Regions from separate parts of the Homo sapiens genome. Here all the other regions are linked to region 3. Evidence: fine-mapped expression QTL. A gene starts in region 3. Each other region holds a variant in brackets. All regions are shown on one strand. Distances are between the middles of the regions.

Evidence for each region.
Region 1: its variant is fine-mapped to the expression of ALKBH5 in whole blood (INTERVAL, PIP above 0.99). The same link has a PIP of 0.9 or more in monocytes.
Region 2: its variant is fine-mapped to the expression of ALKBH5 in whole blood (TOPMed, PIP above 0.99).
Region 4: its variant is fine-mapped to the expression of ALKBH5 in hippocampus (GTEx, PIP 0.96).

The regions. Positions count from the first base shown.
Region 1 is chr17:18,209,999-18,217,780 of GRCh38, forward strand. No RefSeq gene overlaps it. Among named protein-coding and RNA genes, the nearest start is that of LLGL1, 12 kb to the right of the region's middle. RefSeq lists an enhancer at 7,583-7,682. The variant CT/C (reference allele first, on the strand shown) is at 3,889.
Region 2 is chr17:18,258,303-18,266,084 of GRCh38, forward strand. It overlaps MIEF2 (mitochondrial elongation factor 2), which reads left to right and starts at 2,360. Exons shown (of 4, transcript NM_139162.4): 1 at 2,360-2,435; 2 at 4,412-4,565; 3 at 4,784-4,946; 4 at 5,408-7,782. The coding sequence starts at 4,419. The coding sequence ends at 6,462. FLII (FLII actin remodeling protein) reads right to left here and starts at 436. Exons shown (of 30, transcript NM_002018.4): 1 at 326-436. The coding sequence starts at 388. RefSeq lists enhancers at 1-308, 1,918-2,047, 2,669-3,289, 3,290-3,909 and silencers at 1-117, 128-527. The variant T/A (reference allele first, on the strand shown) is at 3,715.
Region 3 is chr17:18,180,026-18,187,807 of GRCh38, forward strand. It overlaps ALKBH5 (alkB homolog 5, RNA demethylase), which reads left to right and starts at 3,803. Exons shown (of 4, transcript NM_017758.4): 1 at 3,803-4,988. The coding sequence starts at 4,219. RefSeq lists silencers at 1,470-1,764, 3,901-4,200, 4,281-4,370, 4,529-4,680, 5,904-5,953 and enhancers at 3,191-3,390, 3,451-3,690, 3,798-4,635.
Region 4 is chr17:18,729,609-18,737,390 of GRCh38, forward strand. It overlaps the pseudogene TRIM16L. Among named protein-coding and RNA genes, the nearest start is that of FBXW10, 11 kb to the right of the region's middle. The variant G/C (reference allele first, on the strand shown) is at 3,511.

The DNA of each region.
Region 1 (7,782 bases), 30 kb after region 3:
TCCTTAATCCCTTTACTTTCTTAAACTTGAAACAGGGGTTGGGGAGGCAGAGCTAGCTCATTGGCCGCCAGCGTCCCAGAGGAGTTGGTTGGTCTTGGACACTGGGCCTCCTGTGTGCCTAGCCTTGGGTTTATGGCTGAAGGTGGACTTGCCCTCACCCCACTGTCCTTTCTCCCACTCCAAGGAGGGTGAACTTCATAAACCACAATGTCCAGGTGCCCAGGGACCACACCTTCTGGAGTTCTGGAAGTCCCTCTTTTAGATATGATCACTGAGAGGCTGGTGCTGGTGAAGGGGGAGATGGCAGGCACAAAAGCAAGGGAGAACCTGGCTTTTGTGGAAAATATGCGAGTGATTTTGCTCATTAAACAAATACTTGGCCAGGCACGGTGGATCACCTGAGCTCAGGAGTTCAAGACCAGCATGGGCAACTTGGCAAAACCCCATCTCTACTAAAAATACAAAAATTTAGCCAGGTGCGTTTAGCTGTGGTCTCAGCTACTAGTGAGACTGAGACAGACAAGAATTGCTTGAGCCTGGGAGGCACAGGTTGCAGTAAGCCGAGATTGTGCCATTGCACTCCAACCTGGGCAACAGAGCAAGACCTTGTCTCAAAAAAACAAAAAAAAAAATTCTTGAGTTCCTATTGTATACCAAGCCACACTGGGACCCCAATAGTGAGCAAAACTCTGGTCCCTCCTTTCAAGATGCTCATGATAGTGTGGAGTGCAGGTACTGGCATGAAGCAGATGTTTTTCAATGGGTAAGGCTGGGGCCCAGAGGGCTTTAGTCCCTCCAGACTTCAGACCTGGCTCCCTATGCCTGGTAAAGGGCTTCTATCTAGAGTCTCTTACTCTGTTCTAGTGCTCAGAGCTAGTCTGCTTGGCCAAATTCTTGCTGTGGAAACTTGGATAAGCTGCTTACCTCCACATTTACCAGAGAAGAGAGACTCCAGAGTGGGGCAAGTAACTGGCCCAGGCTTGGTCTAAAAACTAGTGCGAGGGTCTGAAGAGAGAGGGGCCAGAGTCTCAAGTGTGGTCTGGGGCTAGTTGGGCCTGGAGGGGTAGACACTGGGCTAGGCAGAGTGGACCTTGGATCCCCTGGAGAAGGAAACACCGGATCTGAGAGAAAGTGACTTGCAGAATGTCATCCAGAGTATAAATGGCAGAAGTAAGCATCCCCCACTCCATGCCTGAGCTTCTGACTCTTGGGGCATGGGATAGGGGCTCAGAGAAGGGCTGGGGGAGTGCGAGGAACCGTCTTTGTGGAGGACCCTATTTTCCATTGCCATTAAAAAGTCAGACTTCTGGCCAGGCGCAGTGGCTCATGCCTATAATCCCAGCACTTTGGGAGGCCGAGGTGGGCAGATCACGAGGTCAGGAGTTTGAGACCAGCCTGGCCAACATAGTGGAACCCCGTCTCTACTAAAAATACAAAAAATTAGCTGGGCATGGTGGCGGGCCCCTGTAATCCCAGCTACTTGGGAGGCTGAGGCAGGAGAATCACTTGAAGCCAGGAGGCGAAGGTTGCAGCGAGCCGAGATCGTGCCACTGCACTCCAGCCCAGCGGACAGTGCGAAACTCCATCTCAAAAAAAAAAAAAAAAAAAAAAAACTCCCAGCCTGACCAACATGGTGAAACTCCATCTCTACTGAAAATACAAAAATTAGCTGGGCGTAGTGCTGGGCGCCTGTAATCTCAGCTACTCAGGAGGCTGAGGCAGGAGAATCGCTTGAACCCGGGAGGCGGAGGTTGCGGTGAGCCGAGATCGTGCCACTGGACTCCAGCCTGGGCGACAGCAAGACTCAGTCTCAAAAAAACAAAAAAAAAAAAAAGTCAGACTCAGCCAGGAACAGTGGCTCATACCTGTAGTCCCAGCATTTTGGGAGGCCAAGATGGATGAGCCCAGGAGTTTGAGACCAGCCTGGGCAACACAGCAAAACCCTGTCTCTACAAAAATACAAAAATTAGCCAGGTGTGGTTGTATGCACCTGTAGTCCCAGCTACTTCAGAAGCTGAGGTGGGAGATCACTTGAGCCCAGGAGGTCAAGGCTGTAGTAAGCCGAGATCGCGTCACTGCACTCCAGCCTGGGTGACCCTGTCTCAAAAAAAAAAAAAAAGATTCGGGCCGGGCGTGGTGGCTCATGCCTGTAATCCCAGCACTTTGGGAGGCTGAGGCAGGCGGATCATGAGGTCAGGAGTTCGAGACCAGCCTGGCCAACATGGTGAAACTCTTTCTCTACTAAAAATACAAAAATCAGCTGGGCACGGTGGTGCGTGCCTGTAATCCCAGCTACTCAGGAGGCTGAGACAGGAGAATTGCTTGAACCTGGGAGGCGGAGGTTGCAGTGAGCTGAGATCACGCCACTGCACTCCAACCTGGATGACACAGCGAGACTCTGTCTCAAAAAAAAAAAAAAGGATTCAGCCTCTTCCCAATCCCTGGGTGAAAAAGGCCCTTCACCCTGTAGTATGGAGAGATAGGAGGACTAGAGGAGGGGGCTTTGGCCCTAGCAGTTCCTGCTGTCTCTCTACCTGTACAGTAGCACTCTATCTCTGTAACATAATCCTCTGAGTAGTCCCTAGAACTCTACATCTGATTCTGGATCTGCCTGATCTGATTCTGGATCTGCCTGTTCCCAGCCATCTCCTAGGGCCTCAGGCCAGGTGCTGAGTCCCATCAACCCCTGTCCCTAGCCCAGTCTTCTACACAGTAGATGCTCTAACAGCTGGTGCCATCCCTCACCCCGCTAGGACCCCATCCCATTCCTCCAACCCTTTTGTGTGGAAGGGGAAACTGAGGCCCAGAGAAGTTGACTGGCCAGAGGTCACGTTCACGCATTCAAAAAATAGTGTCTGGCCAGGCGCAGTGGCTCATGCCTGTAATCCCAGCATTTTGGGAGGCCAAGGCAGGTGGATCACTTGAGGTCAGGAGTTTGAGACCAGCCTGGCTAACATAGTGAAACCCCATCTCTACTAAAAATACAAAAATTAGCTGGGCATGGTGGTGCGTACCCATAGTCCCAGATAACTCGGGAGGCTGAGGTGGGAGAATCACTTGAACCCAGGAGGTGGAGGTTGCAGTGAGCTGAGATTGCGCAGTGCTGGAGATACAAGACAGACCTAGTATATGATGTCATATACGCATAAAGTTATAAATTTTACTGATGTGAAGTATAGCATATAAATATTATTTTTGAGATGGAGTCTTGTACTGTTGCCCAGGCTGGAGTGCAGTGAGTGGAGTGATCTCCACTCACTGCAACCTCCGCCTCCCGGGTTCAAGCGATTCTCCTGTCTCAGCCTCCCGAATAGCTGGGATTACAGGCACCTGCCACCATGCCCAGCTAATTTTTTGTATTTTCAGTAGAGATGGGGTTTCACTATGTTGGCCAGGCTAGTCTTGAACTCCTGACCTCATGATCCACCCACCTCGGCCTCCCAAAGTGCTGGGATTACAGGCGTGAGCCACTGTGCCTGGCCAGCATTTAAATTATTAAAACATATATATTCTTATAAATTCCATATAACCAATCTTTTCTCACAGAAATCTATTTTAGTTTTTTTGCTGAATTACTGTATTTGTAGTCTGCTTGTGCTTATAATTCAGCCATGATATGACAAAGGGACTTGCATCATACCTGCTTGTAATAGTTTCCCGTGGCTGCCATAACAAGTCACCACAACCCTGGTGGCTTAAAACGACAAATTTATTTCTCTCAAATTCTGGGAAACTCAACATCACTGGGCTTGCCTGTCTAGTGGAAAACCTGTTCTTTGCCTCTGACAGCTTCTGTTAGCTGTTAACATTCCTTGACTTGGGAACGGGCAGATTCACGTCTCTGCCTCCATGGTCACATGGCCTCCTCCTCTGTGTACCACATCTCCT[CT/C]TTTTTTTTTTTTTTTTTTTTTTAAAGACAGAGTCTCACTGTCACCCAGGCTGGAGTGCAATGGCTGGATCACAGCTCACTGCAGCCTTGACCTGCCAGGTTCAAGCAATCTTCCTGCCTTGGCCTCTCAAACTGCTGGGATAACAGGTGTGAGCCACTGTGCCTGGCTTCTGCCTCTCTCCTAATAGGACATTCACGATTGGATTTAGGGCCCCTCTGTCACCCAGGCTGGAGTGCAGTAACATGATCTCGACTCACTGCAGCCTCAAACTCCTGGGCTCAAGTGACCCTCCTGCCTCAGCCTCCCAACCTCAGGTGTGCACACACCACTACACCCTGCTAATTTCTTTAAAAAAATTTTGGGCCAGGCGCGGAGGCTCACACCTGTAATACCAGCACTTTGGGAGGTGGAGGCGGGCAGATCACGAGGTCAGGAGATCAAGACTATCCTGGCTAACATGGTGAAAACCTGTCTCTACTAAAAAATACAAAAAATTAGCCAGGCATGGTGGCGGGTGCCTGTAGTCCCAGCTACTCGGGAGGCTGAGGCAGGAGAATGGCGTGAACCCAGGAGGTGGAACTTGCAGTGAGCTGAGATGCGCCACTGCACTCCAGCCTGGGCGACAGAGCAAGACTCCGTCTCAAAAAAAAAAAAAAAAAAAAAAAATTTGTAGGCCGGGCGTGGTGGCTCACACCTGTAATCCCAGCACTTTGGGAGACCAAGGTGGGTGGATCACCTGAGGTCAGGAGTTCGAGACCAGCCTGCCCAACGTGGCGAAACCCCATCTCTACTAAAAAATACAAAAAGTTAGCCAGGCTTGGTGGGCGCCTGTAATCCCAGCTACTTGGGAGGCTGAGGCAGGAGAATCGCTTGAACCTGGGAGGCGGAGGTTGCAGTGGGCCAAGATCGTGCCACTGCACTCCAGCCTGGGCGACAAGAGCAAAACTCTGTCCTCAAAAAAAAATTTTTTTTTTGTAGAAGACTTCACACTGTGTTGCCCAGGCTAGTCTCAAACTCCCAGCCTCAAGTGATCCTCCTGCCTTGTCCTCCCAAAGCACTGAGCCACTGCACCCGGTCCCCTATGTAATGATGTTTAATTATATTCGAAAGACCCTTTTTCCTTATGAGGTGACATTCACAGGTCCCAGGGATAATGACCCGATATTTGTGGAGGCCATGGATCAGCCCCTACATGCCCTTCTCCCAGTAAAGTTATTGCCATTAAATCTGATATATCATCTGCTTTCTCATCCTCAAATATTAGTTGGATTAAAATTTCTCAGCTATAGCAGTACTTTTAAATTTAATCTGAATCATTAATATTTTCCTTCACTTTCTCTTTTTTTTGAGACGGAGTCTTGCTCTGCCGCCCAGGCTGGAGTACGGTGGCATGATCTCGGCTCTCTGCAAGCTCTGCCTCCCGAGTTCATGCCATTCTCCTGCCTCAGCCTCCTGAGTAGCTGGGACTACCCGCCACCACGCCTGGCTAATTTTTTGTATTTTTTAGTAGAGACAGGGTTTCACCGTGTTAGCCAGGATGGTCTTGATCTCCTGACCTGGTGATCTGCCCACCTCGGCCTCTCAAAGTGCTGGGATTACAGGCGTGAACCACCACATCCGGCCCTCTTCATCACTTTCTTAAATCTAGACCTGTGTTCTTCAGTACAGCAGCCACTGATACTTGGCTATTGAGTATTTGAAATGTGGCTAGTTTGAATTGAAATGTGCTTTTAGTGTAAAATACCAGAATTTGAAGAGTTAGTATGAAAAAAACAATGTAAATCATTAAGAACTTTATATTGATTACTTGTTGAAGATACTATTTTGAGCTGGGCATGGTGGCCTACGTATAATCCCATCACTTTGGGAAGCTATGGTGGATGGATTACTTGAAGTCAGGAGTTTGAGAGCAGCCTGACCAAATGGCAAAACCCCGTCTCTACTAAAAACACAAAAATTAGGTGTGGTGGCGCTCGCCTGTAATCCCAGCTACTTGGGAGGCTGAGGCAGGCTTGCACCTAGGAGGCAGAGATTGCAGCGAGCCAAGATCGTGCCACTACAGCCTGGGTGAGAGAGCGAGACTTTGTCTCAAAACCCCCCCAAAAAAGAAGAAAAAAAAAACTATTTTGGACATATGTTAAATTTGGACATACTGGGTTAAATAAAATAGGCTGAGGCAGGAGAATTGCTTGAACCTGGGAGGCGGAGGTTGCAGTGAGCCCGAGACCGTGCCATTGCACTCCAGCCTGGGCAACAGAGCCAGACTCTGTCTCAAAAAAAAAAAAAAAAAAAAGCTATTTAAATTAATTTCACCTGTTTTCTGTTACTGTTATATCTGGGTACTCAATAATGAAAATTACATATGTGTCTTGCATTATATTTCTGTTGGATGGTACTGGTCTAGAAAACTATAGAGCTGGGCACAGCAGCACACCCTGTATTCCCAGCTACTCAGGAGGCTAAGCGGGAGGATTGCTTAAGTCCAGGGGTTATCATGGCTGATTGCAGCTGATCAAGGTAAGGTCACTGAACATCGAGCTGTGAAGAAATGTGCAGTAACACCCCAATATATAGTGTTTCCACCATACAGATACAATAGATGTAATCCAAGAGTACAGATAATAGGAAAATGTGGCAAAATAAGTAGGAAATGCTTAGTTTTTAATATTACCCTTAGTTTTTAGTGTAATTTTAATTTTATATAATTAATTTTTAATGACTTTAACAACTGACTCACAAAAGTTCTTGAAAATTTGCCATTTGGCTCTTGCAGAGGGCTCCAGCACACCACTAGATTCCCATAGAGAGTTTGAGCAGAGGAGTGATGTGAACAGATGTAGGATCACTGGTGCTGCTGTGCAGAGGACTGTCAAAATCAATAAGAAAACCACTTTCTTAGCTGAGTGCAGTGGCTCACGCCTGTAGTTCCAGCACTTTGGGAGGCTGAGGTGGGTGGATCACCTGAGGTCAGGAGTTCAAAACTAGCCTGGCCAACATGGTGAAACCCTGTGTCTACTGAAAATACAAAAATTAGCCAGCCTGGTGGTGGGCGCCTGTAATCCCAGCTGCTCGGAAGGCTGAGGCAGGAGAATTGTTTGAACCCGGGAGGCAGAGGTTGCAGTGAGCTGTGATCGTGCCATTGCACTCCAGCCTGGACGACAAGAGTGAAACTGTCTAAAAGAGAGAGGAGAGAGAAAGAGGAGAGAGAGAGAAAAGAAGAAAGAAAAGAAGAGAAAGAGAAAGAAAAGAAAAGGAAAGAAAGGAAGGCCTGGCACGGTGGCTTACACCTGTAATCCCAGCACTTTGGGAGACCGAGGTGGGCGGATCACGAGGTCAAGATATCGAGACCATCCTGGCCAACCTGGTGAAACCCTGTCTCTACTAAAAATACAAAAAAAATTAGCCGGGCATGGTGGCAGGCACCTGTAATCCCAGCTACTTGGGAAGCTGAGGCAGGAGAATCGCTTGAACCCGGGAGGCGGAGGTTGCAGTGAGCCGAGATCGCGCCATTGCACTCCAGCCTGGGTGACAAAGTGAGACTCCGTCCCCCCCCCCAAAAAAAAAAAAAAGAAAGAAAAGAAAAAAGAAAATCCACTGTCTTTGTGAGAGATGGAAAACTAAGGGCTCGGGCAGTGTCAGGGCTGGGGTCCTCCAGTTAGGTGTGAGGCGCTTGCTGCCGCAGTTCCTCCTGTGTCCACAGTGTGGCAGCATAGCCTGAGTGATGGTGCTTCAGAGTAGAGGGCAAGGGCCAGCAGCTGTCCCTTGGTTTGGATGGGGAACTGAGGTCCCCAGAGACCCCCGAACCTGCCAGAGGTTACTCAGAGCCAATAACTTAGGTTCCCCACTGCTTCTGCCCTTCTCAGCCAGGGATCTCAGGGCTAGTAGGGTTTTC
Region 2 (7,782 bases), 78 kb after region 3:
CGGGGAGGCTCGCCCGATCCCCAGGCCACCATCCAGCCTAGACCGAGAACACGGACGCGGGGTGGGGGCTCCCGGCCGGGCCCCCGGCGGGACTCCGAGCCCAAGCGTCCGTCCCCGGCCTGCCCAGCCTCGGTCTCCCCGTACAGGCACTGGGCGGAGGCCTCGGAGGTCCATTCCTGGCCAGGGGAGAGCCCCACCCCGCCCCGGCCGCAGTCCCTGGGACACGCAGGGCCTGGAGCCGAGCGGGACAGGAAGCGGAGGCCAAGCGGGCCGGGCGGAAGAGAAGGCCTGCAGGGAGGCCCGGCACGCGCCCGGCCCGGCTCACCTTGAAGTCGTTGCCGCTGAGGTCCACGCCACGCACGAACGGCAGCACCCCGGTGGCCTCCATGGCGCCGCTCTCGCTGCCGGGCCGCGCCGGGCTAGGGAGCGCCGGGGCGAGGGCGCTGGGGGGAGCCGCGGGCTGGGCCAGCGCCGGCCCCGCCCCTTTAACCCGCCCGCGCCCGCCGCATTCCGCGGGGAAGTGTAGGCTTTAGGCCTCTTAGGGCCTCAGTTTCCCCGTCTGTTCGAAGACTGCGGAGGCACCAAGGAGTGCGGGCCCCCCCTGTGCTGGAGTTGGAGGCTTCCACGATCTCCAGGCTTAAGTCCCAGCGCCCCAGGGCAGGGGCCGTAACGGCCGCTGGTCGAGGCACCGTCACCTGCGCTGCTGCAGCACATGAAGCTGGCCCTGACCTCAGAGAGATTCTAAACCTCGGCCCCGGGGCGCAGAGGCCCAGGAAGTGCCTGTACTTGGCTGACCGGTGGTAGTGAGACACCTGGATCCTCGGGTCCTAGCTCTCCTGCTTCTGGACTTAGTTTCCTCATGTGTTGTTTTTGTTTTGTTGAGACAGGGTCTTCTTGCTCTGCTGCCCAGGCTGGAGTGCAGTGGTGTGATCATAGCTCACTGCAGCCTCGAACTCCTGGGCTCAGCCTCCCGACTACCTGGGATTATAGGCGCAGGCCACCACACCTGGCTAAATTTATTTATTTTATTTATTTTTTATTTTTTTTGAGACAGAGTCTCGCTCTGTCGCCCAGGCTGGAGTGCAGTGGCGCAGTCTCGGCTCACTGCAACCTCCGCCTCCCGGGTTCACGCCATTCTCCTGCCTCAGCCTCCCGGGTAGCTGGGACTACAGGCACCCGCCACTACGCCCGGCTAATTTTTTTTTTTTTTTTTTTTGTATTTTTAGTAGAGACGGGGTTTCACCGTGTTAGCCAGGATGGTCTCGATCTTCTGACCTCGTGATCCAACCGCCTCGGCCTCCCAAAGTGCTGGGATTACAGGCGTGAGCCACCGCGCCCGGCCTTATTTATACTTTTTGTAGACACGGGGTGCTTGCTATGTTGCCCAGGCTGGTCTTGATCTCCTGGCCTCAAGTGATCCTCTGGTATCAGCTTCTCAGAGTGTTGGGATGACAGGCGTGAGCCACCGCGCCCTACCCAGTTTCCTCATTTGTAAAATACTTTCTAAGGTTGTCACCATGAGCAAATTAACAAAGAATGCACGTGTAGCTCGCAGCATACAGCAGGCGCTCAGTGAGTGGCAGGTTATTATTCCGTTTTGTTTTGTTTTGTGCGCCAGGTTATTATTCCCACTTAGTGTCAGCACCCCTGTGCTCGTACCCCCCTACAAAGGGAGGCTCCAGAAGAGAAGCATCCGTCTTGGTCCTTGCTGTTCAAGGGGGCTCGCCCTGGCTGACACATAGCAGGACCCCAATAAATGAGCCACAGCTGTTATATGCCCAACCATCCTTCGCAGGGGAGGAGGGGGTCTAGTGTCCCCATTTTACAGGAGAAAAACTGATGCCCAGGTGGAGAATGGCCCACACAAGCTCGCACAGAGCAGGTGGCAGGGGTAGGCGCTGTGCCCCTCAGGCCCACAGGTAAGAATGAGGCCACCAAGACACTCTCTCGCAGAGGTGACCTAAGAGGTTGGATGTGCCGGGCCTCTAGCCATGTGCAGCCTCTCTACCTGGTCCCCAGAAGGAACGGGGCCCAGACAGCTTCCTCCACACCGGAGGCTCACATTACAACGCACAGACGTCCTGGAGGGTCGCCTGTCACGTCACCTGTTCGCGGTCTCGGAATGCAGCCCTGCACCTTTAAATCCAGACTGCGTCAGGGAGTCCCGCCCCAGAGGGAGTGCGGCTGTCGGCTGGGGGGCGGGACCTGCCCTTCATTGGCTGAACCGCGCAGTATTTTGGCACCTGTGCGCTGGACTCGAGCGCTCCGATTGGAGTTAGGGCCTGCTTGTCTGCGTGCTGCGAAGTCCGCGGCTGCCCCCGGGGCCCTAGTCGTTGGGTTCCAGGGTCCTTCACGTTCCATTCCCAGGCTGGTCTGAGCTCCGGGGCCGTGGTCCCGCTGCCTCCTCCGGTCGTCGTGCGGAAGCTGCGACGCAGGTACAGCTGGAGCGCGGCGGGGCGGCCCCCAGGGTCACCGGGCTCGGGGCTTGGCGCGCGACGGAACGCAGATCGGGGGCGTGGCCCGCGATCACCGCTGGGGAAGGCGGGGAGGGGACCTTTGGGGGACCAAGGGCAGCGTTCGAATCCTAGCCCAGCCCCCTTCCCCTCTCGGTCTCTTGGTTTATCCTGCGAACGGGGCGTCACCCGCCCACCTAGGGCTGCTGCGCGGCCTGCTCCGCCCGGGCCCAGGGCAGGCAGGTTTGGCGGAGGAGGGAAGGCCAAACGGCCTCCAGGGCCCCGCTGCGCAAACTTGGGTTATTTTCAGCCACCCGTGCCCTTTCCTGCTTCTCGGAGCTGGAAGGCTGTGGACTGAGGCCTGCGCGACCCCGCCAGAGATGGGGCTGAGTCCCAATTTAGACAGGTTGGGAGTATTTAAAGCGCTTTACAGTTTGCAAAGTAGATTCCTGGTCTCTCTGGGGGCGGGTGGCAGTATTGATCCCCGAGTCACCGATGAGGAGATTGAAACCGGCCCTGGGGCCGTGGCGGGTCACCCGGTTGGCCTGGGATCGCCCCAGAGACCGTCTTATTTTTAGTCTGGGGCGAATGGGCGGGTGTACGGGGCTGAGTCACACAGCGCTTCAGGCTTCAGCTACTCCAGGCATCTGGTCACCTGGCAACTGGGCCCCTGGCACCCACACTCTGGCAGGGCAGGTAGAAGTCCTTGGTGCCCGGGCAGGCTGTGACCTCATGGTCATCTGCTCAGGCCTCCCCGGGAGAGTTCTGCTTGGTGTCTAACTGATGTCCTAAGGTCCCAGCCCTTCTCAGCTCCCAGGGCCTGAGGGCAGTGTCCCCCTCGCAGAACGTGAGGAATGTGGACTGGGCCCTAGGAGATCTTTGCCTCCACTTCCCAAGTGCTGGCCCCCACCCAGCCACACACTTCAAGGCTGCCCACATCTGCCCCTCACTGCTGCCTATGCCATCTTACAGGTGAGCAAACAGGCTGGGGCCCAGGCCTTCACCTTACTTTCTGTGTTGCTTGGCCTTCCGGCAGTTGAGAAGCATCACCCACCACTACCTACACATTGTCCCAAGACTGAGAGGCCCAGAGAGCCCCCTGTACAGAGGCACTGGGCAGCCCTTTCTGCCCTGCCAAAGGGGCTTCAACCCTGACAAGCACATCTGCATTGGCCTGCCTGGGCAGCTTGGGCCGTCTTACTCTGCCCGTGCTCTGACTTGGTAGCTCTGCCTCTTGGGCTACCCTGTCAAGATTTGGGGG[T/A]AACTGGTCCCAGTGGTCCCCCAGACTGGCTGGGGCCCCAAATTGTTGGTCTTCTCTGGACTTTGGGCTCTTCTGAAGAGGTTATCATAGAGGGCTGCTGTGCCCTCTGGGTAGGAACCTTCAGATGAGGCTGCTGCTGAGGACCTGGGCACCTGGCACAGGGAGAATCCGTCAGACTCTGTGGGCGGATGAGAGTCTGGAGGCCTTGCAGTCATGGGTTGGAGACCTTACCACTCACTTGTGAGCTGGCAGCCTGTAGCTCTGTAACATAGGGGTAGTGATGATGACACCCTGGTGATGTCAGAGGTCCTGGAGGGTGGGCTCCAGGGAGAGAGGCCCCTTCCTATACCTGCACAAGCCTCAGGGCCTTTGTGAGCTTCTTTCCAGGCAGCTTTGGGAGAAGGGGCTTGGCAGCTCCCTCATCTCCTCATGAGAGATGGGGGCTTGGGACCCCAAAACCCAAGCTCATATCCCATCCCTGCCCTTTCTCAGGTACTTTACGTGATTTCCCAGGGCCTCGGTGTCCTCCCCTGTGGATGGGTGGCCCCTTTCTCTGAGAAATTCTCAGAAAGCCCCCCTCATGGGCTCAGCTCTGTTACCCAGCATAAGGACAGCTAGAGCACCTGTCCACAGCAGCCCCTCTCCCAGCCTGGCCACCTGCACCTGAGCTGCCCCTTCACCCCTGGCTCTCTTACAGGCAGACCATGGCAGAGTTCTCCCAGAAACGGGGGAAGCGGCGTAGCGACGAAGGGCTGGGCAGCATGGTGGACTTCCTCCTGGCCAATGCCCGCCTGGTGCTGGGCGTGGGCGGGGCTGCTGTGCTGGGCATTGCCACCCTGGCCGTGAAGCGGGTAAGGCCAAGTGGGCGGGTCATGCCTGAAGCTCCTAGAGGAGGACAACAGGGTTGGGCTTTTCAGAGGGGCCCTGGGGAGGGGTGGGGACTGCCCAAGGCCTTCATGGGAGCCCAGGGCACCTGCTTCTCCACCCAGCACGCTGGTCTGCTTTGCCCTGGGCTTTGCTATGACTGCCCAGATTTCATATACACTGATCTGTGTGACTGTGCTTGCAGTTCATTGACAGGGCCACTAGCCCGCGGGATGAGGATGACACCAAGGCAGACAGCTGGAAGGAACTGAGCCTGCTCAAGGCCACACCACACCTGCAGCCCCGGCCTCCACCTGCTGCCCTTAGCCAGCCAGTGTTGCCCTTGGCCCCCTCGTCGTCTGCCCCAGGTGAGTGGCACTCCTTCCCCTCTTTTGGTGTCACATTCAAGAGACGCAGCCCAGGCTTTGCCCTGACTGACTGTGTGACCCTGCGCGAGTCCCTGCTTCTCTCTCGGTTGTGGGCTCCTCAGATATTTAATGGGGGTGGTGTTTCTTTGCCCTGTTCCTGGAGCAAGGTGGTAGCGTTGTGATGGTGGGGAGCTTTAGATGGGGAAACTGAGGTCCAGAGGGGCGTGACATACCTACCTACTCTGCATGAAGCTGTTGTCGCCAGGGTGTTGGACTCTGGGGCAATGAGAACTCGTCACCAAGAGCTCACTATATGTGAGGATCTGAACTGAGTGCCTTCTCAGGTGCCACTGCAGGTGAGAAAAGTGAGGCCCTGGGACATCACACAGCTAGTTCTCGGTGGCGTTTTCTTAACTAATCACAGGCTGTTCCGACATGTTCCCCGCCCCTTCACTCTGCAGAAGGGCCTGCAGAAACTGATCCTGAGGTGACACCACAGCTCAGCTCCCCAGCACCGCTGTGTCTGACACTGCAGGAGAGGCTGCTGGCCTTCGAGCGGGACCGTGTGACCATCCCAGCAGCCCAGGTGGCTTTGGCCAAACAGCTGGCTGGCGACATCGCCCTGGAGCTGCAGGCCTACTTTCGGAGCAAGTTCCCGGAACTGCCCTTTGGGGCATTCGTGCCTGGGGGGCCGCTCTACGACGGGCTGCAGGCGGGGGCTGCGGACCATGTGCGTCTCCTGGTGCCACTGGTGCTGGAGCCGGGCCTGTGGAGCCTGGTGCCGGGCGTGGACACTGTGGCGAGGGACCCTCGCTGCTGGGCCGTGCGCAGGACGCAGCTTGAGTTCTGCCCCCGTGGGAGCAGCCCCTGGGACCGCTTCCTGGTCGGGGGCTACCTCTCCTCCCGCGTCCTGCTGGAGCTACTCCGCAAGGCGCTGGCTGCTTCTGTCAACTGGCCGGCCATTGGCAGCCTTCTCGGGTGCCTGATCCGGCCCAGCATGGCCTCGGAGGAGCTGCTGCTCGAGGTGCAGCACGAACGCCTGGAGCTCACTGTGGCTGTGCTTGTGGCAGTCCCTGGGGTCGATGCTGACGACCGCCTCCTCTTGGCCTGGCCCCTGGAGGGGCTGGCGGGGAACCTCTGGCTGCAGGACCTGTATCCAGTGGAGGCTGCTAGGCTGCGAGCCCTGGACGACCATGACGCTGGGACTCGCCGGCGGCTGCTGCTGCTGCTGTGTGCTGTCTGCCGTGGTTGCTCGGCTCTGGGGCAGCTAGGCCGGGGTCACCTGACCCAGGTGGTCCTGCGTCTGGGGGAGGACAACGTGGATTGGACGGAGGAGGCCTTGGGTGAGCGCTTCCTGCAAGCCCTGGAGCTGCTCATCGGCAGCCTGGAGCAGGCCAGCCTGCCCTGCCACTTCAACCCCAGCGTGAACCTCTTCAGCAGCTTGCGTGAGGAGGAGATTGACGACATTGGCTATGCGCTATACAGTGGCCTACAGGAGCCCGAGGGGCTGCTCTAGGTGGGTGGAAACGGGTGGTTGCCATGTTTTCTAATGCTGGGGAGCTGCACCCACCTCCCTTCCAGGGATTTGAATAGTGGTTTTTCTCTAGCTTTTTGCCAGAACAAAGGAGGGTACATTACTTAAACCCAGGGCATCAGGATGTGCTTGGGCTATGGTGGCCATAAACCCTGAGCCCAGAGAGCTTGGGTCACTGTCACCTGAGTGCAGCTGGGCTGCCTCAGGCAGCTTGGAGTGCCAGCCATTCCTGCAAGCACCGTTTCAGCTCTTGGGGCCAACCCCAGGACCTTTGGCTCTGTCCATCACCAGCAACCAATCCACCAACAGAATGTGGTTTCTGCCATCCTGGGCAGAAGCTGAAGGCCAGCTTCACATTTCTGCTGAGAGAAGGTGACTTAACGCCTTTTCCGGCCCTAGCTCCAGGCGTTTTGAGGCGTCTGGTGCCTGATGGTAGGTATGGTGTGTTTGTTCTGTCCCCCAGGGGCTGGAGTCACCTGGTGCCCCTGAAGGACAGATTTTTGGCTGTTAAAGGATGGCATTTTCCTGCTGTCTTCTGTGCGTTTAGTTTTCTTGCTGAGCGGGAGCTCAGTATGACTTGCCACCCACCTGATACCTCAGGGCAAGGCCCTTTTTCCCTCCAGCCAGGTGAGTGTTTTCTTCAGGCAGCTGAGGGTCCTGGGGGAGCTGAGGCTCTGTGCTGCACCCCCAGCCCACAGCTGGGGCATCTCACTGGAGCTGTTCCAGGCCCCACTGGAGAGCAGAGGACCTGATCCCCCACTAGAGAGGTCCGGTGTGCACAGCCGGCCTCCCAGTGTGCCAAAATGAACTGCTCTCAGCTGATGGCTGTATTCTGACTTTGAAGCCTGTTAAGAGGTAGCAAGGGGGCTAGAGGAGGGAGATTCCACCTCCCCTCCCAAGTGACCCTCCTCCTGCCTCTGGTATCCTTCCTTTTGAAACGAAGCTCAGCTTCGAAGATGTGAACAAGAATAAAAGGAAAAAATTCTAATGTATATATAACTCAGGCTGGATAAGGGAGTCTTGGTGCTTTCATACGCAGCTGTTGAGGGTTTTCTGTAAGTCCTGTGGCTTGTCCTGGCACTTTGGCAAGAGTGCTTGAGGTCAATTGGAGGTGGTAGAGTTTACTTTAAAAAGTAGCATCTTGGCCGGGTGTGGTGGCTCGCATCTGTAATCCCAGCACATCGGGAGGCCGAGGCGGGCGGATCACGAGGTCAAGAGATCGAGACCATCCTGACCAACATGATGAAACCCCAACTCTACTAAAAAGACAAAAATTAGCTGGGCGTGGTGGCACGCACCTAT
Region 3 (7,782 bases):
GTGGGAGTTAGCTAGGGAAAGAGGAAAGAGAACAACATACGCAGGGGCCCTGAGGTGCGCATTACTTGTAGCAGGATCTGAGACTGAAGAGGCCGGCAAAGATGGTTTCGATAGGGCTTCTGGGCTACATTAAGAATTTAGGATTTCTGGGCCAGGCGCAGTGGCTCATGACTGTAATCCCGGCACTTTGGGAGGCTGAGGCAGGCGGATTGCCTGAGCTCAGCAGTTCGAGACTAGCCTGGGCAACACGGTGAAACCCCGTTTCTACTAAAATAAGAATAATATACAGGGGCAGCCTGCCCCTGTAATCCCAGCTACTCAGGAAGCTGAGGCAGGAGAATGGCTTGAACCTGGGAGGCAGAGGTTGCAGTGAGCCAAGATCATGCCACTGCACTCCAGCCTGGGTGACAGAGTGAGACTCCATCTCCAAAAAAAAAAAAAAAAAAAAAAAAGAATTTAGGATTTCTGGGCCGGGCATGGTGACTAACACTTGTAATCTCAGCACTTTGGGAGGCTGAGGCCAGTGGATCACTTGAGCTCAGGAGTTTGAGAGCAGTCTGACCAACATGGTGAAACCTCTCCTCTACTAAAAATACAAAAATTAGCCGGACATGGTGGCATGCACCTGTAATCCCAGCTACTCAGGAGGCTGAGGCACAAGAGTCACTTGCACCCAGGAGGCGGGGGTTGCAGTGTGTCGAGATCGCGACACTGTACTCCAGCCTGGGCGACAGAGCGAGACTCGGTCTCAAAAAAAAAAAAAATTTAGAATTTCATCCCAAGAGCCATGAGCAGCCTTCAAAGGTTTTCCAGAGGGGGAAGGGGAGGCACAACCTGCACAGACTGTACTTTGTTAAAGCCATTCTGACCACTGAACGGTGAGTGAATGTAGGAGTTGGGGAGACCAGAGGGGGCTGCTGCAGTGTTAGCTGGAAAACTTGTCATAGATTCTAGTGGTGGTGATGGGTGGGGAGAAGTTGGTAACTGGGGAGAGATTAGAAGGCCCAGCTGGCAGGACTAGGGGGTCAATCAGACCATCCTGGGATGGAGAGGATCAAGAAAGAGCCCCTGATACAAATGCCACAGGGCTGTCCTGCTTTTCACCACTGCCTTGGGTTGGCTTTCCCCAGAAGCAGACCCCAAGGTGAGGAAAGTAAGGAACTCACCAGAAAGAGTGTGGTGTCAATCAAGTTACCACTGTGCAGGGGCCATGCCTGGCAGCAGCTCACTTAACCCCTGGGGTTCTGCCTGCGGCGCTGATGCTCAGTATAGGGACCCCCAAAACAGAGCACAGTGGGCTCCAACATGAGGCAGCCCTGAGGCCTGCCCTCTGCCCCTCATTTCTCATTGTTGTGAGATCATACATGGTGTGTGTGAGGGGGAGGGGGTGTCAGGCTAATTCTTTTGCCCCAAAACCTTTTCCCTAGTCAAGCTGAACTATGAGGCTCAGGAAGGGATGATGTGGCAGAGTGAAAACGAGGGGGCCCTTTTGGCTTTCAGAATACAACTGGGGCCTCCCACACAGACTACAAGCGGCTTCTTGGAAGTAGATCATCCAGGTTGAGCCAAAATGTGAATCACCTCTTCTCTAGGTTGACACAGCCTCTCCCATAACGGACACTGCATTGGAAGCTTCCCTGTGTTCCTCCCTGACTGCTCTTGAGCTAGGACTCTCCCCTCTCGGAGCCCCGGTGAGGGACAGCACAGATTCTGGAACCAGGCAGCCTGGGTTTGAATCATCACTAGGCCACATACTCGCTGTATGGCCTTGGGCAAGTCATTTCACCTCTCTGGGCCTGTTTCCCTATATATACAATGGTAATAATAATAATGCCCTCCTCATTGAATTGTTTGGACGATTAATTGGGCTAGTATATGCACAGGTCCTGGCACATAGTAAAAACTTGATAAGCTTTTTAAAAAAATGTCCATTCCAGGCTGGGCGCAGTGGCTTACGCCTGTAATCCCAGCACTTTGGGAGGCCGAGGCAGGAGGATCTTGTGCCCAGTAGTTCCAAGACCAATTTGACAACATGGTGAAACCCCATCTCTGCTAAAAACAGAAAAATTAGCGGGGTGTGGTGGTACACGCCTCTACATAGTTCCAGCTACTCAGGAGGCTGAGGTGTGGGAGGATGTCTTGAACCCGGGAGGTCGAGATTGCAGTCAGCCAAGATCGTGCCACTGCACTTCAGCCTGGGCAACAGAGACTCTGTCAAAAAAGAACGAGGAGGAGGAGGGGAAGGGGGAGAGAGAGAGGGAGACGGGTGATAAGGAACTGGCATGGGCAACAGCCATGGCAAACAGCCTGGGCAAAGGCCAGGAGGTGAGACACAGTATGTTTGTAGACCTGGCTTACAGGATGAGGACCAGGCTGGGGCTCAGTGTACATGGAAAGAGAGGAGAGGAGGAGCCAAGGCCAGAAGAGTCTTGAAGAAAAGCTTTGAGTGCCAAATAAAGCAGGGGAACTTTATCCTGGGAGACATGGGAGATTTTCCAGCAGATCCCCCCCGACCCCCATTTGTTGGAGCCCTCCAGTGCATCCTGCACGGCTACGCCTTTTTGTTTTGTTTTGCAGCTCTGTCGCCCAGGCCGGAGTGCAGTGGCGCCAGCTCGGCTCTCTGCAGCCTCAATCCCCTGGGCTCAAGGGATCCTCCCACCTCAGCCTCCTGAGTAGCTAGGACCATAGGCGCGCGCCACCACGCCCAGTTCATTTTTAAAAATTTTATTGTAGAGATGGGGTTGCCATGTTGGCCAGGCTGGTCTCAAACTCCTGGGCTCAAGTGATCCGCCCGCCTTGGCCTCGCAAAGTGCTGGGATTACAGGCGTGAGGCCCCGCGCCCGGCAACGCCTTTGCTGACTGCTTCAAAACTTTTTTGAATTGACTGTAGTCATTATCTATAGCTTAGCCTTAGCCTTGCGCCCGTTCGTTTCCTGGAGTTTTCTTCCAGAGTCCCCGTAGGAGGTGCCCCCACGCCCATCTCCAGCACCAAGGAGGCTCGACGCCAACCCCAGCGCGCCCCCACGCTCGCCGTCACCGGGACGTGACTCGTGAAACGTCCGCTCCGGGCGGCGGCGGCAGCGGCGGCAGGCTGGCTTGTACCCCGACAACGCGCGTCTGGCTTCTGCCGGACGTTCCTATCTGGGTTCAGAACTGGGGCCGGGTGCTGCAGGTCCCGCAGTCTGAGAAGTTTTCGCGGGTTTCAGAAGTTTCCTTAGGCGTTCTAAGGGCTTTACTCAGGTGGAGTCTCCATTCAGGCACTTATTTAACCACCCATTTCTCCTTTAGGGGTCCTCGCTGCTCGCCCAGCCGCTAATTAAGTGACGGACACAGTAGCTAAGGAGACTGCCTGATTGACACGCATGATTACCAACCGACTTCCGGAAACTCCAGTCAGGGCCTGCCCGGCGCGTGGCCCACGGCCCAATTAAAGAAGTGGAAGCGCCAAAGGGGGAGGTAACGGAGCGGCCTACGTTGTGGCGGTTCCCTGGTGAATGCGCCCTGGGGTTGAGGCGTCTGCGGGCGTTCGGACGATGCCGTGACGCGGCACGGCGACACTGTTGGCAATATGAGCGCACCCCTGTAGAGGGAGCCCTTCGGTCCTGGAGGCGGCGCGGCGTGAAGACAGGTTGCTATTTGAGAGCGTTCCCTTGAAGCCCCTCAGAGAGTGGGGGAGGGGCGGCGGACGGCAAGCGGTTCCTGTCTGCGCTTGCGCCGGCGCCTCTGCCGACCCGGCCTGCACGCACGCGCATGCCCGTAGCGCGCGGAGCCGCGGTGGCCGGCAGCACTGCGCGTGCGCGGTGAGGAGCCCGCTAAGGAGCGGCGCTGGCGGACGTCGGGCTGGCTGCCCGTGACGTCGTGCGGAGAGCTTTAAAGTGCGGGCCGGGCCGGGCGTCCGAGGGTCTGGTCGGGAGTCGGGCCGCGTCTCCGCAGCAGCCCTCCGCGGCATGAGGCGCTGCCGGCGCCCCTGCCCCGCGGGACGTGGAGAAGGTGGAGGAGGAAGAAGCCCCGTTGTCGCCACCGTTGCATGACCCGCCGCTCCTGAGGCCCTACCCCACGCCCGGACCCTCGACGCCCCCCGCCGGGTCCCCCACTCACGCATGGGGGTTCGGCGCTAAGGACCCCCCTCCCTCCGGGGGCCCCGGGGCGCGTCCCCTTAGAGCCATGCCCGGCTGCCCCGCCCGCCCCGGAGGACCCTAGAGCAGCGTCGTGGGGGCCATGGCGGCCGCCAGCGGCTACACGGACCTGCGTGAGAAGCTCAAGTCCATGACGTCCCGGGACAACTATAAGGCGGGCAGCCGGGAGGCCGCCGCCGCTGCCGCAGCCGCCGTAGCCGCCGCAGCCGCAGCCGCCGCTGCCGCCGAACCTTACCCTGTGTCCGGGGCCAAGCGCAAGTATCAGGAGGACTCGGACCCCGAGCGCAGCGACTATGAGGAGCAGCAGCTGCAGAAGGAGGAGGAGGCGCGCAAGGTGAAGAGCGGCATCCGCCAGATGCGCCTCTTCAGCCAGGACGAGTGCGCCAAGATCGAGGCCCGCATTGACGAGGTGGTGTCCCGCGCTGAGAAGGGCCTGTACAACGAGCACACGGTGGACCGGGCCCCACTGCGCAACAAGTACTTCTTCGGCGAAGGCTACACTTACGGCGCCCAGCTGCAGAAGCGCGGGCCCGGCCAGGAGCGCCTCTACCCGCCGGGCGACGTGGACGAGATCCCCGAGTGGGTGCACCAGCTGGTGATCCAAAAGCTGGTGGAGCACCGCGTCATCCCCGAGGGCTTCGTCAACAGCGCCGTCATCAACGACTACCAGCCCGGCGGCTGCATCGTGTCTCACGTGGACCCCATCCACATCTTCGAGCGCCCCATCGTGTCCGTGTCCTTCTTTAGCGACTCTGCGCTGTGCTTCGGCTGCAAGTTCCAGTTCAAGCCTATTCGGGTGTCGGAACCAGTGCTTTCCCTGCCGGTGCGCAGGGGAAGCGTGACTGTGCTCAGGTAACCCACCCGGGTGGAGGGGGCGGCCCTGCGCCTGCTGCCTTAGCTACCCACCCTGGCCCAGAAAGCAGCAGCCCGTAGGAGTCTGCGTTTTTTACAGTTCTGACCAGTTCTTCTGTTTGTAGATTGTAGGGAGCGAGAGAAGGGTTTTGTGTTTAAGATACCTATAGCAAGAAAATAGGGAACCGATGTGGAAATCCTGTCCCCGAAGGCAGGTTTGACGGGATCACTGACTTGGCTGAGAATTCATCGAAAGCCATCTTTTCAGAAGGCTGTTCCCTTTGATTTTTTTTTTTCCCACCATCCATTTCTTAGCATAAGTCCCTTTGTGATTTTCCGGTTTTCCATTCTGGCCTTCCATTTACAAATCTATGCTTTAAAATTTTTTTTTTTTTTAATTTATCTAAAAGTCTTTCTTGTTCTGCCATTTTTGGATTCCTTAACAGAGAAAGTAGTCACAGGCAAAGGCCCCAGAGATTATTTAATTGAAGCACATTCTCCATTCCCAGGAGGGGGAGTGACTTCCCTGGAGTTGAACAGATTAGTGGTTGGGCCAGGCATACAGAGCAGCACACTCTTAAAATTCTTCCCTCCTGGCTGCAGAAGAGCCCATCAGTTCTTTGTAAGAACGTGTTACTTGTAGTCAGGACTGAATACAACAGAATACAGCTGGTCTCTTGACTGTTTGGCCTTACAGTTGCGTGAGCAGCAGAACTTAGGCTTTTGGCCTATATTCGGTTCCCAGATCCTGCTGAGAATTAGCTCAGTGCCCTGGCCCCCAGAGGAGATTGCCATTGGGAACACCTTTGCTGTTTATGTGAAGTGAAAATTTATTTGGAAGCGGCCTCCTTCCAGTCCTGAAAAAGGTAAACCTAGTAATGTAATTCAGTAATACCCAAAACATCTTAGGTTTAGACCGCAGCTGTTCTCAGAGCAGCTTGGTTGACCACCACCAAATACAAGGTTGAGGACACACTGGGCTTTTGTCGTGAGCAGCCCAGGTTCTGAAGTGAGTCAGTAGGGCCAAAGTCATGAGGAGAAGCAGGGTCCCTGGAGCCTTCTTGATATGAGATTAGGTCATCTGTTTCATTTGAGTCTAACAGCTGAGGCTGCTTCCATGTTGGGGATGGCAGCAGAGCCTTGTAATGTCCAAGACGTCCTGGTGGGAAGGTGGGAAGTCAGTAGTAGCAGAAGCGATACTTTAGCTCTTTAGGCATCTGAAACTTAGAGGACAGCCTAGCTGTCAGATGCCTTCTTATAATGGGCTTCTGAGCTTCTCAGATCTTCATGGCGCTCCTAGATGGATGTCTTGGCAAAATGCTTTAAGATGGGATTTCCAGGACACACCCTCTCCGGGTGCTTGCTGTGTAAGGCAGGTTGGGGTCTGACCCCATTGACGGGTTCTCAGTGCAAAAATTACCTCACACAAGGACCATTTGGTCTCTTAGCGGGATATTAATTTTCTGCGTAGTCATTGGCCCTCAGGGTGGTTGTCAGGAGGTCTAGTAGTGGTCTGGTGCTTAATGAGGGGATCACAAGGCATTTTTTTTTGGTTTTGGGACTACTACTCTCCTTAACACATGCCCACCCTGTATTTTAAGAACAGAAGTTTCGAGTTCTTAGTATGCAGGTCTGTTAGTGATCAGCAACAGGATTGCATCATCAGGAAAATTCTCTTCATCTTTTCCTCAGAATAGTAAAGTCCTAAAGCTTTCCCAGTCCCTGTCAACCCTTTCTGGATTCAGACTTGGCTGTGGTGTTAGTGTGGGAGGCTCAGCCATGTCCTGAAAAGTGCTGCCCCAGGCTTTGAATCCAGCTTTTCTCTCATTTGCTTTGGGATCTTGTAGGCGTTCTCTGAGCTGGCTTTCCCATCTGTAAGTGGGGATGATGCCAACTTCCAAAGCCTATTAGAATTAAATGTGGTGATTTGTTGTCTAAGATAGGGCCTGGCACAGGGTAGGTACTTAAATGGGTGCTTGCTTTCATATACAACCACTCAGTGATCCCCTGCTCTCTCACTGGGGAAGGAACTAGGGATTTGGTGGAGCCTGAAACATGACAGTTTCCCTTCGTGTAGTTCAAGCCCCATGGAGGCCTCAGACAGGAGGATAAGTTATAGCCCAGGAAGGTAACTGCAGAAGCACACTGAAGGGGGACATCTTTTCCACTTTGGAGTGTTGGAAGTTTAGGGGAGGAAATGAACTGGAATGTGAAAAGTGACTAGGAATGAGCCAAGCAGAGAAAGGTGGAGAAATACACAACAGCAGTGTCTTTGGCTGCAGTAGCAGGAGTAGCCATAGGTAAGAGGGGGTGGATGTTGATGGGAGGCAGATGGAGTTCATTAGTAGAGACTGTGGTTGAGGGTGCTCTGGTGAACTCTAGATCAGGGCTTCTCAACAGTGCTATTGTTATTCAGGGCTTGATAATGCTTCATTGTTGAGGCTGTTCGTGCATTGTAGACTGTTCAGCAGCATTCCTGGCTTCTATCTGCTAGGTGCCAATAGTGTTTTTTATGACAACCAGAAAGTGTCCAGACACTGCCAAATGCCGAGGCAGGGGAAGTGCAGAATCCTTAGTTGAGAGTCACTGCTCTAGGGTCTGGACCCTTCCACTAATTAAATCTTCTTGCACCTGCATACTTAGCTTACCTTGGTATGCAGGTGGGTGAACACCTGCCTATTAGTAGTGCCCGTCGTCAAATCCTGCATATAAACTGGTAAGAAGTGGTGCTTTCTCTTTTCCTGGTACAGATCCTAGCCCAGAGGTGATGAGCAGTAAAGCTGCAGATTGGAAG
Region 4 (7,782 bases), 550 kb after region 3:
ATGGTCTCGATCTCCTGACCTCGTGATCCACCCGCCTCGGCCCCACAAAGTGCTGGGATTACAGGCGTGAGCCACCGCGCCTGGCCAAATTTTTTTTATTTTTAGTAGAGATGGGGTTTCACCGTCTTGGCCAGGCTGGTCTCGAACTCCTGACCTTGTGATCCACCCACCTCGGCCCCCCAAAGTGCTGGGATTGCAGGCATGAGCCACTGCACCCAGCCTGTAAGTTTATTTTTAACATAAAAGACTTTAATACATATAAAATAAATTCTAGTGTATGATAACTATTTATTGGCTGGGCACGGTGGCTCACACCTGTAATCCCAGCACTTTGGGAGGCCATGGCCGGCAGATCATGAGGTCAGGAGTTTGAGACCAGCCTGACCAACATGGTGAAACCCTGTCTCTACTAAAAATAAAAAAAATTTGCCAGGCATGGTGGCGCACACCTGTAGTCCCAGCCACTTGGGAGGCTGAGGCAGGAGAATCGCTTGAACCTAGCAGGCAAGAGGTTGCAGTGAGCCAAGATCGCGCCATTGCACTCCAGCCTGGGTGACAAAGCAAGACTATGTCTCAAAAAAAAAAAAAAAAAAAAGATATTTATTTATTTTGGCAAAAGATAACATTTCCCCCCAAATTTTTGGTTAGGCATTCAAAACAAGATTTATTGAATAACTTATCCAAATAACTTATCCTTTCTCCCACTGATTTAAAATGCTACTTTTGTCTTGTACAGTATATAGCATTAAAATGTTGAATTACCCTTTTCTCTATCAATTCTCTGGTTTTGATTTCCATGGCTCTATCTAATCATTTTCATACAACTGTTTTCATTGCTATGTTTTCTGCTGTACCTGTTCTGCTCTTTAATGCTTCAGTTGCAGCTGAAGTTTGATACTGTGTTATATCTGAAAGCATCTTTCCTGATCACACGTTGTTTCAAAACTTACATGAAACTATGTGATTATCAGTGTGAAAACACTTTCCAAATACTAAAGCAAGGTACAAGAATTACAGAAATTTATGCATTGGATGAAACTGACAAGGAAGAGGCAGCACTCCTGCCTGAGAGCTCCTCCATTTTCCACCATGGCTTGTGTTTAAATTGTCAAAAAACAAGTACTGACGGCATGAACAAAGCAAGAATGTTCTTTATTTTTTGGTCCCCAGTCTGGACTGTGTATTGGAGCTGTTCATGGCCATCTAGTACATCTTGATTTTTAAAATCCCACGTTCTCACTTCTTTTTTTTAAAATCCCACTTATTCTGAGGGTCTAGCAGCTAGAGAAGTGCTATCTATTTTGTTAGACCCTGAGCTTGACACTTTACATGTACTTTCTTTGTGAAGGACACATTACCGTCAGCCCATTTTACAGATGCAAAAAGTGACTTAATGAGGAGAGAAGCCCGAGTTTAGAAATACAGAAACCACAGCAAGTTCTGCTGTTTCCTTTTCTGCAGGAGTACTGCAAGTTTAAGAACACTGAAGACATCACCTTCCCTAGTGTTTACATAGGGCTGAAGGATAAACTCTCGGGCATCCGCAAAGTTATCACGGAATCCACTGTACACTTAATCCAGTTGCTGGAGAACTATAAGAAAAAGCTCCAGGAGTTTTCCAAGGAAGGTGAGACACATTCTGGGCCATGGACTATAGTGAGTGTGTCTCTAGCAGTAGATGATAGGAAGGTGAGAGAGAGTCAGGGAAGGGAGGATGAAATCAGGGGAATGTCTCATTTTCTTTTTTTCTTTTTTTTCTTTTTTTTGTGAGACAGAGTCTTGCTCTGTCACCCAGGCTGGAGTGCAATGGCGCAATCTCAGCTCACTGCAACCTCTGCCTCCCGGGTTCAAGAGATTCTTCTTCCTCAGCCTCCCTAGTAGCTGAGATTACAGGCACCTGGCTAATTTTTGTATTTTTAGTAGAGACGGGGTTTCACCATGTTGGTCAGGCTGGTCTCGAACTCCTGACCTCAAATGATCCGCCCACCTCGGCCTCCCAAAGTGCTGGGATTACAGGTGTGAGCCACCGTGCCCAGCCAAATGTCTCATTTTCAAAGCCATGCTTCAGACAGGGTATGTTACTAATGGACTCTCATCTTGATGATTTTCTTTTACAATTGAGACCCAGAGAAGGACACTTAGTCATGCTTATATTATGCCATCGGCTGGCATTTCTGTGAGTAGCTTCCCAGGTTGCTGATGCCTATACTTTTAAGTTAAATCCAAGACGGTCTGGATCACTTTTTCAGTGGTTTATGCCTTACCTATGAAAGAAATGTAGTCTATTGAGCGTATTTCTGTGAAACATTACCAGGCTTCAGCCCCTTCTTTCCCCAGGAAGCCCAGGGAAGGGTGGCTGGGAAGTCCTGATTTGCAGATTCTCCTGACCACCTGGACAGGTGTGCATTCACAACTCTCTTGATTTTCTAGAGGAGTATGACATCAGAACTCAAGTGTCTGCCATTGTTCAGCGCAAATATTGGACTTCCAAACCTGAGCCCAGCACCAGGGAACAGTTCCTCCAATGTAAGTTGTGAACGGCACCCCCTTCTCCAGTTGTTGATATCAGTGCAGTGCTTTGCTAAGTCAGAACCGCCATCTCTCATCTAGGTTTCAGGTTCTTGCAACTTCATGTCTATCCCTAAATGATACATTTCTTAAAATTTAATTTAAACAATTTTTTTAACTTTTCATTTTGAAATAATATGAAACTTACAAAAATATTACGGAAATAAGACAAAGAATTCCCATATATCTTTCACTCAGTTTCTCCTAATGTTAACACGTTACATAACTACCATACATTGATCAAAACCAGGGAATAACATTGCTACAATGCTATCAACTAATCTACAGAATTTATTCAGCTTTCACCAAGTCTTTCATCAATGCCCTTTTTTTCTGGCCCAAAGTCCAATCCAAGGTCACAGATGTTTCCATGTCTTCTTAGTCCCCTTCAGTCTGGATCAGTCTTTCAATCCTTGTGTTTCATGACCATAGCACTTTGAAGAGTCCTGGCTAGTTACCAAGTGATTCATTTCTATGTATGACTTGGCCAGAATTGCATAACTCATTGACCTATCATTAAGTGTTATTGACTTGGTCCATTAGCATTTTTAAAACACTGCACAGTTGACCCTTGAACAATGTAGGGGTTGGGATACCAATCCCTCATATGGTTGAACATCCACGTGTAGCTTTTGATTCCTCAAGAACTTAACTAGTAATAGCCTTCTGTTAATTGACATAAACAGTCACTAAACACATATTTTGTATGTTTACATATATATACATGTAGACATATATATATGTATGTATGTATATTTTTTGAGACAGGGTCTCTGTTGCCCAGACTGGGGTACAGTGGCTTGATCATGGCTCACTGCAGGCTTGACCTCCCACACTCAAGCAGTCCTCCTCCCTCAGTCTCCTGAGTAGCTGGGACCACAGGCGCATGCCACCACATCTGGCTAATTAAAAAAAAAATTTTTAAACAATTGTAGAGATGGA[G/C]CCTTGCTGTGTTGCCCAGGCTGGTCTCAAACTATTGGCCTCAAGTGATTCTTCCATCTCAGCTTCCCAAAGTGTTGGCATAAGCCGCTGCACCAGTGAGAACTTTTTTAATTATGGGATTGTTTTAATAGCCTTTAATATGCTAATTCATTTGGCAAGTATATACTGAGCATCTTCTCTGAGCTAGAGAAGAATCCCATGCAAAATGTGAAGCTCATAGATTAGAGGGAGGACAAGCAGGAAACAAACACTCACATGAATATCTATTATTACAAATGGAGAGGGGTGCCAAGTTTAAAACGCCATGGTGCTCTGAGAGAGAGTGAGTTAGAGTCACAAAGGGCCTCTTCGAGGACATGAACTCTCAGTTGTAGCCTGAATGGATTGGTAGGAATCACCAGACTCAGAGTAGGGCATGATCACATCTCAGAGGGAACAGGCTGTACCAAAGGCTCAAAGAGGATTGAGTGTTGAGTAGGTCTGAGGTCAGCACGGTGGAAATGTAGTAATCAAGGGAGAGAGTCAGAGACACAGGAAAGGACCAGGGACGTGGGGCCTGGTAGGCCAGGGCAAGGGGTTGCTGCTTTATCATAAGAGCAAGGGGCACCATGAATAACTAGAATTATTAAGCTAGAATAACACGACTGGCCTCAGCCTACAGCTGGAAACAAGCAGCATGGCTCTGTTGTGGAGAAGGTCTTGAAGGGGGCAAGAGAGAACAGCTAACGACCAGTCAGAAACCCGCTGAACTAGTCTGAGTGAGATGAGTGGTGGCTTAGGTCGGGGGTAAAGCAGGGGGCTGGAGAGAAGTGGTAGAATCCGTAGGAGTTACTGCTTCCTGTGTGTGTAGTGAGGATAGGGGAAGAGGATGAGGGCAAAACAAATGTCAGAAATGACATAGAGCTTGACTTGAGCAATGGGGTGCATGAGACCCTATTATTCTTTGGGAGTGGGAGGAGAATATGAGGGCGTGTTTGAGAATTCTTCATGCTCCATTTGATCCATTCATTCATTTTTAAGATGTTGGTTAAATATTTTAAAAAATGAATGAATGGGCCGGGCGCGGTGGCTCACGCCTGTAATCCCAGCACTTTGGGAGGCCGAGGCGGGTGGATCATGAGGTCAGGAGATCGAGACCATCCTGGCTAACAAGGTGAAACCCCGTCTCTACTAAAAATACAAAAAATTAGCCGGGCGCGGTGGCGGGCGCCTGTAGTCCCAGCTACTCGGGAGGCTGAGGCAGGAGAATGGCGTGAACCCGGGAAGCGGAGCTTGCAGTGAGCCGAGATTGCGCCACTGCAGTCCGCAGTCCGGCCTGGGCAACAGAGCGAGACTCCGTCTCAAAAAAAAAAAAAAAAAATGAATGAATGGATCAAATGTGGGTATAGGAGTACCTGCTTCCCCAAACACTTGCCAACACTGGATAGGATAATGCCAGGCATTCAATACGTGTTTGTTGAATGAATGAATGAATGCATGAATGAGTAAATTAATATATTTCTTGATTCGGTTCATCAAATAACATCATCAATGTCAAGCAATTTGAGCTTCATAAGGGAAGGGAGTAGATGATTTGTGCTCTCTGTTTTCTGGTCTTCACTCACCTCATTTCCTAGGGAAACAGCAGCCTGGGTAAATAGAGAACAGAGAAATGGATGTTTTCTCATATGTGCTTTGGAGCCCAGCTGGGTTTAAAGCATTCTGTCTGAATCAGCTGTCAGTTCCTGAACCACTCTCCTGCCTTCTGTGTCTCCTCAGATGTGCATGACATCACGTTCGACCCGGACACAGCACACAAGTATCTCCGGCTGCAGGAGGAGAACCGCAAGGTCACCAACACCACGCCCTGGGAGCATCCCTACCCGGACCTCCCCAGCAGGTTCCTGCACTGGCGGCAGGTGCTGTCCCAGCAGAGTCTGTACCTGCACAGGTACTATTTTGAGGTGGAGATCTTCGGGGCAGGCACCTATGTTGGCCTGACCTGCAAAGGCATCGACCAGAAAGGGGAGGAGCGCAGCAGTTGCATTTCCGGAAACAACTTCTCCTGGAGCCTCCAATGGAACGGGAAGGAGTTCACGGCCTGGTACAGTGACATGGAGACCCCACTCAAAGCTGGCCCTTTCTGGAGGCTCGGGGTCTATATTGACTTCCCAGGAGGGATCCTTTCCTTCTATGGCGTAGAGTATGATTCCATGACTCTGGTTCACAAGTTTGCCTGCAAGTTTTCAGAACCAGTCTATGCTGCCTTCTGGCTTTCCAAGAAGGAAAACGCCATCCGGATTGTAGATCTGGGAGAGGAACCCGAGAAGCCAGCACCGTCCTTGGTGGGGACTGCTCCCTAGACTCCAGGAGCCATATCCCAGACCTTTGCCAGCTACAGTGATGGGATTTGCATTTTAGGGTGATTTGGGGGCAAAAATAACTGCTGATGGTAGCTGGCTTTTGAAATCCTATGGGGTCTCTGAATGAAAACATTCTCCAGCTGCTCTCTTTTGCTCCATATGGTGCTGTTCTCTATGTGTTTGCAGTAATTCTTTTTTTTTTTTTTTTTGAGACGGAGTCTCGCACTGTTGCCCAGGCTGGAGTGCAGTGGCGTGATCTTGGCTCACTGCAAGCTCCGCCTCCCGAGTTCAAGCAATTCTCCTGCCTCAGCCTCCCGAGTAGCTGGGATTACAGGTGCCTGCCACCACACCCAGCTAACGTTTTGTATTTTTAGTAGAGATGGGGTTTCACCATGTTGGCCAGGCAGATCTCAAACTTCTGACCTCGTGATGCACTCACCTCGGCCTCCCAAAGTGCTGGGATTACAGGCGTGAGCCACTGCGCCCTGCCTGTTTGTAGTAATTTTTAGGCACCAAATCTCCCTCATCTTCTAGTGCCATTCTCCTCTCTGTTCAGGTAAATGTCACACTGTGCCCAGAATGGATGACCAGGAACCTTCAAGAGTGGCTGAAAAGATTGCAGAGTTATCATAATAAATTGCTAACTTGCGTATTTCCTATGTGCCAGATACCGTTCTTGTGCTTCCTGCACATTAACTCAGTCCTCACAGAACACCCATTGGGTAGATGCTTATATCATCCTTATTTTGCAGATGGAGAAACTGCGGTCCGGGGCAGTTAGCTAATTTGTTCAAGGTCACTCTGGTCACATGGTGAGTGAGGGGCAGAGCTGGGATTCAAGTGTGGGTAGAATGACACTGGACTTTTAACCACCACATCATATTGCCTTCCTTTATTTTATTTTATTTTATTTTATTTTTTTTGAGACGGAGTCTCGCTCTGTTGCGCAGGCTGGAGTGCAGTGGCACAATCTCGGCTCACTGCAAGCTCCGCCTCCCAGGTTCACGCCATTCTCCTGCCTCAGCCTCCCGAGTAGCTGGGACTACAGGCACCCGCCACCAAGCCCGGCTAATTTTTTGTATTTTTAGTAGAGACGGGGTTTCACCGTGTTAGCCAGAATGATCTCGATCTCCTGACCTCGTGATCCACCCGCCTCGGCCTCCCAAAGTGCTGGGATTACAGGCGTGAGCCACCGCACCCGGCCACCTTCCTTATTAGATCATGGACATTGTATAAAAGGGAATAAAATGCATAGCAGAGAAACTTCTTGAAGTTTGCAAATCCACACACAACATCTGACTCAGCCATCCTGCCTTGCACTGGCTCACTGCCTCACTGCCTCACACAGCAGTCCTTTCTATTTGGGGACAGCAAGGATTAGAAGAAATGTCTTAACAGTGTCTGAGTTTTAGTCCCTGTGACCTCTGGAAAGGGGCCCTACTCCTCTCCTCTAAAGTAACCTGGAATATGTGGACTTGTCTGATTTCTCATTCAAAGAATGGTTCTTTTAAGAACTGTCACGTAATACCCACGCCCCAGGTGTTCTTGTTTTCATATGAAATTTTCCACCTTCCTTTATGGTTCTCAGTCCTTTCCCCCTGATTATTTCATTCTTCTTTTGACAGATAAGCTTCCTAAGATTAATCACAAGCATTCATCAAGCCTTTAGGCAAATGGCAAACTGTCTTTAAATGGGTTTCTGAAGCTATAACCTGAAGTCTCTGGTGGGATTCACCAGAAATATAAATTTTGAGTCTGTTCCTGTGACCTTTGTCAAGGCAAATCTTTTTTTCTCCAATCAGTCTGATTGGCCTGTCTCAAGAGTATATTACTTTAGCATAACTTGACTTGTTACCTATATTTGTATCTAAGGATGTTTACAGTATAGGATTTAAAATGATTTTACTTTAATTTCATCACATCATTGCTT